Homo sapiens: one gene and its partners. The protein of the gene in region 3 interacts with the protein of the main gene of each other region in a biochemical or structural test. Each region holds a gene or a part of one and is shown on either strand. Other genes may lie near its edges.

The links.
Region 1: the proteins of ETS1 (region 3) and ARID4B form a complex in vitro, tested with the Homo sapiens proteins (one study listed by BioGRID).
Region 2: the proteins of ETS1 (region 3) and CREB1 form a complex in vitro, tested with the Homo sapiens proteins (one study listed by BioGRID).

Annotation. Positions count from the first base shown.
Region 1 is NC_000001.11:235,168,791-235,171,339, reverse strand, and holds part of ARID4B (AT-rich interactive domain-containing protein 4B), read left to right. Parts: intron 1-2,549. UniProt on the Homo sapiens protein: Acts as a transcriptional repressor. May function in the assembly and/or enzymatic activity of the Sin3A corepressor complex or in mediating interactions between the complex and other regulatory complexes.
Region 2 is NC_000002.12:207,574,835-207,578,494, forward strand, and holds part of CREB1 (cyclic AMP-responsive element-binding protein 1), read left to right. Parts: intron 1-437; coding exon 438-620; intron 621-1,796; coding exon of another isoform or gene 1,797-1,813; exon of another isoform or gene 1,814-1,819; coding exon of another isoform or gene 1,820-1,859; exon of another isoform or gene 1,860-2,091; intron 2,092-2,275; exon of another isoform or gene 2,276-2,390; intron 2,391-2,670; coding exon 2,671-2,821; intron 2,822-3,660.
Region 3 is NC_000011.10:128,577,416-128,581,075, reverse strand, and holds part of ETS1 (protein C-ets-1), read left to right. Parts: intron 1-3,660. UniProt on the Homo sapiens protein: Transcription factor. Directly controls the expression of cytokine and chemokine genes in a wide variety of different cellular contexts. May control the differentiation, survival and proliferation of lymphoid cells.

The DNA of each region.
Region 1 (2,549 bases), on a different chromosome or scaffold from region 3:
TGCCTCAGTCTCCCGAGTGGCTGGGATTACAAGCGTGCTGCCACGCCCAGCTAATTTTTTATTTTTAGTAGAGATGGGGTTTCACCATGTTGGCCAGGATGCAGGATGGCTCGATCTCTTGACTTCGTGATCCGCCTGCTTCAGTCTCCCAAAGTGCTGGGATTACAGGCATGAGCCACTGCGACTGGCCCAAATAAGGTATCATTCTTACCAAAAAAATTAAAACTAAAACCAATGCAGGAACAGTGTAGTGAAATATATAAGTTATGAGTTGTAATATAGTAGAATATTACTCAACTTTGAAAAGAAAAGGATCTGTATGTACTGATATGGAACAATCTCTTAAAATATATTGTTTAAAAAAAAGTCAGACACTGAACTATGCTTCCACTTGTGTGTGTGTGGTTTTTTTTTTTTTTTTTTTTTTTTGAGACGGAGTCTCGGTCAGTCACCAGGCTGGAGTGCAGTGGCGCGATCTTGGCTCACTGCAACCTCTGCCTTCCGGTTCAAGCGATTCTCCTGCCTCAGCCTCCCGGGTAGCTAGGACTACAGGTGCGTGCCGCCATGCCCAGCTAATTTTTGTAATATTATTATTAATTTTTGAGACAGAGTATCTCTCTGTCATCCAGGCTGGAGTGTAGTGGTGCAATCTTGGCTCACTGCAAGCTCCGCCTCCCGGGTTCACGCCATTCTCCTGCCTCAGCCTCTCTAGTAGCTGGGACTACAGGCGCCCACCACCACATCTGGCTAATTTTTTGTATTTTTAGTAGAGACTGAGTTTCATTGTGTTAGCCAGGATGGTCTCGATCTCCTGACCTTGTGATCCGCCCACCTAGTCCTCCCAAAGTGCTGGGATTACAGGTGTGAGCCACCGTGCCCGGCCTCCACTTATGTTTTTAAAGGTGTTGCTATATCTATATATTTTAAATTTGCATATCATATCTCTAGATTCTAGAGATAAAATTCCTGTAGAACAGGGGTTGCAAACATTTTCTGTAAAGAGACAATAAATATGTTAGGCTTTGTGGGCCATGTGGTCTCTGTAGAAACTACTTATCTCTGCCATGGTAAGTGTGAAAACTCCCATAGGCAATATGTAAACAAATAGGCATGGCTGTGTTCCAGTACAATTTTTCTTTCCAAAGACAAGTAAGCCAGATTTGCCCCTGGGGTAGTTTTTTTGCCAGCCTTTTTTCTAGAGTTGTAATGAATATGAATCAACTGGTAGCAATGGGGAAGGGAATTTGGGTGATTAGGAGGTTCCTGGATGAGAGTGAGATTTGCTTTTCTATCCTATTACCCCTGTACTGAATGAATTTTTTAAATCTGTGCATGTATTTAAAAATATTAATTTATGAACACTAATTTATAACAGAGAGGCCGGGCGCAATTGCTCACGCCTGTAATTCCAGCACTTAGGGAAGCCAAGGCAGGCAGATCACCTGAGGTCAGGAGTTCGAGACCAGACTGGCCAACATGACGAAACCCCATCTCTACTAAAAATAGAAACATTAGCCGGACATGGTGGCGCATGCCTGTAATCCCAGATACTCAGGAGGCTGAGACAGGAAAATTGCTTGAACCCAGGAGGCAAAGGTTGCAGTGAGCTGAGATTGCACTGCTGCAGTCCAGCCTGGGCAACAGAGCAAGACCCCCATCTCAAAGGAAAAAAAAAAAAAAGGAGGCTGAGGCAGGAGAATGGCGTGAACCTGGAAGGCGGAGCTTGCAGTGAGCCGAGATCGCACCACTGCACTCCAGCCTGGGCGACAGAGTGAGACTCCGTCTCAAAAAAACAAACAGGCTGGGCGCGGTGGCTCACACCTGTAATCCCGGCATTTTGGGAGGCTGAGATGGGCGGATCATGAGGTCAGGAGATCGAGACCATCCTGGCTAACATGGTGAAACCCCATCTCTACTAAAAATACAAAAAAATTAGCCGGGCGTGGTGGCGGGCGCTTATAGTCCCAGCTACTGGGGGGGCTGAGGCAGGAGAATGGCGTGAACTCAGGAGGCAGAACTTTTAGTGAGCCAAGATCGAGCCACTGCACTCCAGCCTGGGCGACAGACAGAGCGAGACTTTGTCTCAAAAAACAAACAAACAAAAAAAAACGAAAAAAGGAAACAGTGAGAGACTTCCTCTGATGAAAATAACTAATGTGTTATTTGCTTTGTAAACCTAGTGGCGGAGAATGCAACAGTTGAGCTATGCACTGTTTTGATCCAACTTGAAGAAGCAATTAAGCCTCCCACTCTTGTCACCATTTACATGTACAAGAAAACTCCTAAGTACAGAAAGATGGAGGGATTAGGAGGGGACAAATGATTTTTGGATGGATTGCAGATTTTTCCTGTTTTGATACTTGTTTCACTGTTACAAAAAGTGTATTCTGTATTTTATTTCTGTGTCTTGTAGACTAGGCACAGTTCTTTCCCTCTTTGACCCACGCAGGAGCCTTCCCTGGTCTGTCCTTTTCATTACTTCTGTAGTTGGGCACTGTCTAGCTTCTTGAGCTACACTAGCTTTTCCTTTCTTCACATCGTAGAACTGT
Region 2 (3,660 bases), on a different chromosome or scaffold from region 3:
CTATTTCATGGCTGCCACTGTGCTAAGTGTATGAAAGTATATAAGAAAATTCCTACTCTCCAGAAATTTATTTACTAGTGGGACAAGTATTAATACATTATGCAGTTAATGCTAAAATAAAAGAAAGGATCACAGAGTGGAACCTCTTCAGAACCAAATAACTTCAGAAGGAATTTAACATTTTTCCACTTAAAAAAATTGTTAACAGGCATTATTATTATAAATTAGAATGCAGTTCATAGAGTGCATTTCTATTGTAGAAGTTGAATATGGGTTTCCTGAGGAGCAAGTTACTTGAATATATTAGACCCTTCTTGGTGATGTTATTTGCTGTAACTTCTCCTAGATTATTTTACAAATTATTCTACATTGGATGTAATGTTTTAAAAGTCTTATATGGTATTAAACTTGTAACAATAAAATCCATTGGCTTTTAGTTGCCATTACCCAGGGAGGAGCAATACAGCTGGCTAACAATGGTACCGATGGGGTACAGGGCCTGCAAACATTAACCATGACCAATGCAGCAGCCACTCAGCCGGGTACTACCATTCTACAGTATGCACAGACCACTGATGGACAGCAGATCTTAGTGCCCAGCAACCAAGTTGTTGTTCAAGGTAAGGGAATTCAGAATTCACAGGTGTGGTAAATTCTTCAAAATACTAAAATTTTATAAACTCACAGAAAAAGTAAGTATCATATTGCAAACCACCATTCAAATGTAGTTAACATTTCTTCAATATTGATAGTATTTTTCATGAACTCTTCCATTATTCCAATTGGACCAAAATGTCATGGCATAAAAACAACTATTTTCAGTTTTTAAAATATTGCATCTACCTTTAACATCTTTTGGGGTAGAAGAAACAGGATAGGTTAGAAGGAAAGACCAGGAAATCAGGAGTTAGAAAAGATGGATTCTGTATCTAACTGCATGGATCTGCTATGAGGCCTTGAGTAAAAGTCAGCTGCTCTGAGCCTCAGGAAAGTGTTTTGTTTTTTGTTGTTGTTGTTTTTGTTTTTTCATCTGTAAAATAAGAGTTGCACTGAATCTCTGGAAACAATCTTCAGAAGTTCAGGATTCTGTTTCTCTGCTTCCCCCCCCCCCCCCAAAAGAAATTTAAATCTTCTGAGATCATCAGTTTTTATTATTATTATTATTATTTTTTTCTAGAGACATGGTCTCACTGTGTTGCCCAGGCTAGTCTTGAACTCCGGGCCTCAAGCAATCCTCCTTTCTCAGGCTCCCAAAGTGTTGGGATGCCTCTGCACTTGACTCAGTTTTTGTTTCAAATGAAAACATTATATTCCACAGGATCTTATACCAATATGCAAATCTGCTGCTCTTTAGAGAAAAAGTAGTTGTTAAATTCTCGACAAATTATAGAAGTTGCTTTTTTTGGCTTTTTTTTTTTTTTTTTTAGTTTTTTTTTTCTGTTTATTTCAGGAATCTTTATGGATAGCAGTTAACCATTTTTCTTTGGATTTGTTTGAATATTTCAAGAATATAGTTAATGCCAGGTTAGAAATTTGCTGATTGAGGAAATAATAATAAATTTGTTTCTGAAAATATTTTTATAAATAATAATGCATTTTGCCTGTGTTAGGTAATGACAGTTGTATCCTTTCACCATGGATAATTGAATAATCCTGAAACACCAACTGGAGAGAGTCATAACTTATTTAAAGAGCCCTAATGTTTACAGAATATATTCTGTTATTAAACGAGTATTTGAAAAAGATACTATTTTGCTTATTGATGAGAGTAAAACACCTTTTCACTTTACATGCAGGTACTCAAAAATTGTAAAGCAGGATGTCAGTGAATTTGAATTCTGAACGTCAGTTTGAAGATGGTAACATGTTTAGTATATAAATCTTTTCCACTCAAACCATACATTTTAATTGATATTAATAATTAATATGAATAATTTTATAAAGACCTTCAAATTTTTTTAAGTAACATTAGGTTCCTTATTAGGAGAGCATATTATTACGCTGTTTTTAGAAGCAGTTTGACAAATAGTGATTGTGTTTGTTTTTACAAATGGTGAATCAGTTAGAAAAATAAAACTTCAGTTTATTTAGCCATTATCATTTACATTAAAACAATATGTTTTTCAAATAATATAATTGGCATCAAGTGATACACTTTTTCATACTTTTAGTTTTGTTTTAATTCAAAATTTATAATAGTTGACCATAATGCTTTATCTTCTTTTTCATTTTGCTATTTTATGAAAAATCATGGTCGTTTTTATGTCGTGGCAAGAGTCTACTTGAAATTTTTTAATATGAATTTACCAATATCAAAGGAAGACACTGAGGACTATACTCTATCTAGGAAGATCATCCAAGCTGTGCCCCACTTACCTTTTAGACTTAAGGTTGGTAAGCATGTTAACAACAGAATAGAACTGCATTCAAATGAAAAATAAAATGTAAGATCCAGCGGACATAGGTTACTGTAATAAATACATTACATTGGGAATTATTTCTTAGTAGTGGCGCGAAGAGTGCTGATTCTTTCAACGCTTTAGCCAGAATCATCTTTTCTTTTTTGTTTCCCTTTTAGTCCAAAATACATGCTTAGATTGATGATTGATACACATAATTGAATCAAGTTGCAATGTTTCTGTCTTACACCATGCTCACTGTTTTTTTCAGCTGCCTCTGGAGACGTACAAACATACCAGATTCGCACAGCACCCACTAGCACTATTGCCCCTGGAGTTGTTATGGCATCCTCCCCAGCACTTCCTACACAGCCTGCTGAAGAAGCAGCACGAAAGAGAGAGGTCCGTCTAATGAAGAACAGGTACAAATACTGCATTTACTTAGATTGTTATGTGTTAAGTGTGTCTTCACATTCTGCTGGATGTGTATCTTTACATCTACTGGTAATAGGATCTTTGCATTGAATTTTTTTTTTCCAGCAGAATTAATGGATCTTGCTAAATTTTCTTTATTTAATAAGCTGCACTTATAAGATAGCTGTATGATTATGGGTCAATCTTTGATCGTGGAGTAGTTTTCTTTCATGCAGTTTCCCCACAGGAGATTTAATGCACAACTTCCCTATGTCTGCACTCCAACCAGTTAGCCAGGTTATTTAAAAATGGTTTCTTTTCATGTATAGTATTGTTCAAGAAGATCAAGAGTTTCATATATGTATATTAACTGTGTGTTAAATTTTATCTATATTAAATTTACTTGATATAAAGTAAATGTATGGTGGCCAGTTCATGTTTTAATGAATAATATCTTTACTCAAAATAATAACATTTTAACACCTAAAGATTCTTCAAAAATATGTTAATTCTAAGAATACCATGTTACGGACAAAAATCTTAAAATATAGTCTTCAAAAAAATACTACATTCAAAATCTGTGAAATGTTGGTAAAGCAATTCTCAGAAAGTAACTTTATTGCTGTAAATGATTTTGCCGTCAAAAACAATAAAAATAAGTTACTAAATATTGGTTTAGAACTTTCATATAGAAGTGACCGAGACAAACAAAAGAAAATGAAAATAAGGTTATGTAAAGGTTTAAAAAGTTTGAAATTAGTGAAAGTATCTCACTGTTCATCCCAGGATACTTCAAACACTGATAAAGTGAAAGAAGCAGGGCTTCCAAGTCCTAGCCCTATCCCTC
Region 3 (3,660 bases):
ATGGTATACCAGAGTAAAACATCTTCTAGTCTTTCTCTTTTTCAGGAGATAGTAGCGAGTTACTCCTCAAGGAAGGGTAAAACAATATACTCTTTAAAATTATAATGACATGAGTTCATTTTAATATTCTAAGAAGGATTCGTTGAGCTATGTCAATTCATACAGGACTTGAAAGTGTTATGCTTAATTAGGAGATGGGTTTATTTTTAGAGAAATAGGAGATGGATATGACTCATTTCCATTTAAGCAAGGGTTGGCGGAATAATTATAGTGAAGTTGTGAAGAAACAAAGACTGAGATGTTAATTGTACTGTGAGTTGCTGCTCTGTAACCTTAGTGAAAGAATAAATGCACTTAGCTTAAGACACAGAAGACAGTAGCCCATAATTTGGAACACAGCCTTCATTTGTCAGTGCTGGCTACTTAAAATAAGAAGGAATATTCACTACTACTGTAATGTTGGATTACTTAGTCAAGCAAATGAGGTTCTTGTAGATTTAGTAGTGAGACAGAAAAACCATCTTCAGTTCTTCTAATCCTTTTTCTTTTCTATGCGTTGTAACCACAAAGTTTCCATGGGGAGTAAGGAATGTTCAGCTTTCCTAGATATGATGGATCTTAAACCTGAGTTCTTAGAGAATTGGATTTGGGAGCTTTTGTTACAGTGACAGGTCAGGGAAGACATCTACTCAAATGATTTGGGAAATACACGTGGGCTACTCATGAGAATCAGAAAGAACACACTGAAGGAGTATAGATGAACTCATCAATCTGGTACATCCTATAGTTTAGAGAAAAGTGCCATCTTGCTTGTAGTTAACTCTTGAGAAGCCTAACCTCAGGGTCACACAAGGACACACTTCATCACAGGGATTTTTTTTTTTTTTTTTTTTTTTTTTAATGTCCAAACGATAACTTACTCTCTTGGATAAGCTCAGGACGCACAAGGATTGTACACACCAACTCTGTTTCAAGTACTTTAGGTACTTTCCCTCATTTAGTAAACAGACACTTGTTGCATGGCTACTATGTGTCATCTGAAAAGACACCATCCTTACTCTCAAGTTACTCATCATTCAGGAGCAGAAACAGGCATAGATACAGGAAGTGTCATGAACTTTGTTACACCGTTACAGTAAATCCCATGGAGGGGCATCAAGGAGGTCCATGCAATTGCCAAAGAGGGTAGGGGGGAGGGGAAAGCTTCCTGAAAGAGGAGATACTCTGAGTCTTCAAAAATACATTTCTATAGTATTCAGAAAAAAGAAATTAAAACTCTATACATTGTAGATTAAAGATGTTGCCTTGGTAGCCCAGGTGTTGCCTTTAGTTTGGCAAAAGTGCTGTTGTTTGGAGCAAGTTTTTTTTACATGGTTAGTTGTTTTGGACACCAAATTCTTTTTTTTTTTTTTTTTTCAATGGAGTTTTGCTCTTGTTGCCGGGTGGGAGTGTAATGGCGAGATCTCGGCTCACTGCAACCTCTGCCTCCCAGGCTCAAGCGATTCTTCTGCCTCAGCCTCCCAAGTAGCTGGGATTACAGGCATGTACCACCACACCTGGCTAATTTTGTATTTTTAGTAGAGATGGAATTTCACTATGTTTGTCAGGCTGCTCTTGAACTCCTGACCTTGGGTGGTCCGCCTGCCTCGGCCTCTCAAATTGCTGGAATTACAGGCGTGAGCCACCGAGCCCAGCCCTGGAAGCCAAATTCTTTGTCTCCTGTATTCCAAGCCAAAAGGACATGCTTTTTGTTTGAATTGATAGGAATCCTAAATTATTGACATTAGGATAAATGCTCATTGGAAATCTATTCAAATTTTGCATTGTTTTCAAAGAGGAAAGGCTGGGGTGAGGGGTGGTGGGGAGAAATCTACATTTTCTGCCACAGCTTTATTGTGCTTTTGAATTCCCCATGTGCCATCTTCATACCCAGGATATGTTTTAACCATAATTCATTGCCTATGAAGCTAACATGAAGACGAGAGGGCAAGTTGAAATTTAAAACATGATGCCTTTGTCAGTGGGAGTCTAATTTTGGCTGGTCTATTATAGAATGCAGTTAGTCAATATGTATTCAAATATGGAATGCATATTTTCTTTGTCCCCAAAATGCTCTTTTTCGGCATTTAGTGGGAATGTAAAATATTTTAGGAATTTTTATAATGACAAAGAATTGGGGACAAATTAATTATACGATAATAAGAGGCTCTTTAAAAGTATGATATATACATACAATAGAATACTTGGCAGTCATCATCTTTAGGATAGACAGCCACATTTATCAACAGAGAAAAATGTCCATAGCATTATGTTAAATGTCAGTGAACAAAGCAGGTTACAAAAGAACATGTGGAGAATAATCTCATGAAGGTAAAATTGTAATCACGTGTGTGTGTGTGACATCTATGTTCGTTTAGATAGATTAAAAAATACCCAGAAGAATATTGAACAAATTATTAGTATAATTATCTCTACATGGTGAGGTTTCAGGTGATTCTAATATCCATCTGTTACTTTTTTGTATTTTAATTTTTGCGGTAACATTGTATTAGTTTGGCAAAAACTGCTGATTTCAAAAGAATTTTGTTTTCAAAAGAAAAAAATTAAAGTGTAATTTACTTGGTATTTACCTAAAAGCGTAGTTTTTCTTTTAGGAATACATAACCCCAAATGAAAAAGGCTTAACTGATGTCAAAGTTATCTAGAAATACAGCCAAGCAGGGTCAGAGTTGATGTGAACTGGATTCAGCCTTGATTCAAGCCTGGTCTCTTTGGGATTTCTTGTTCTTCTGCTGCCTTGGCCTGAACAGTCCCTCTCCTCCCTAATTTTTCCTTTATTCTGTGTCTCTCAACCTGCCCTGCCCTGCCCTGGCAAGCTTTGGGTGAAAGGAAGTGAGAGCCTACAGGTCCTGGCCGGGTTGCCAGTTTGGGGAGGGTGGGAAGTTGGAGAAGTGGTCACTCGCTCTATGAAGAATAGAACTCTCTAGAATCAAGCAGAACCATAGTTTTAAAGTGATTTTTTGGACATGAGACACCCACATAAGCCAAAGTGTTGACTTTTTTGTCTTCTCCATCTCATGCTTGTTTCTGTCCTCGCCATCCAGGGTGATGAGGGTGCTTAGAGAAGCATCTTCTCTCTCTCTCTCTTTTTTTTTTTTTTGGCTTTTTGGCAGAAGAGAATTCCCTCCCACGTGACAACTGCTTGAACATCAGCTGCACCAATTTTTTTCTTAGCATTGCACACGTTTATTGCATAAATGCAAAGCAACTGTGGCATCTGAAGATTTACTCCCCAGCTAAGCAGCATCCATGAGACCTGTTTGGGTGCAAAAATGATTTGGACGCTGGGTAACAAAGGTCTAGAGAAGCATCTTCTCTAAGCACAGGAGGAGGCTGAAGACCAGGAGTCTGGTCTCAGCTTGGCCAATTAGCAGCATCGCCTTAGTCTTTCTCCTCATTTGTAAAAAGAGGGGTTTACACTGAAAAAGTGTGTACAAGTTTTCTAACTTACACTATTGTATTTAACAGTTATCTATGTGCCAGCTACTTTCCAATACTGGCCTAGGATCCAGGGATCTGGAGTGAATAAATGAACTAAATCTCCCCCTTGGGGAGCTTAAATTCTAACAGAGTGGACTTTGGAGAAGACAACGAACAAAC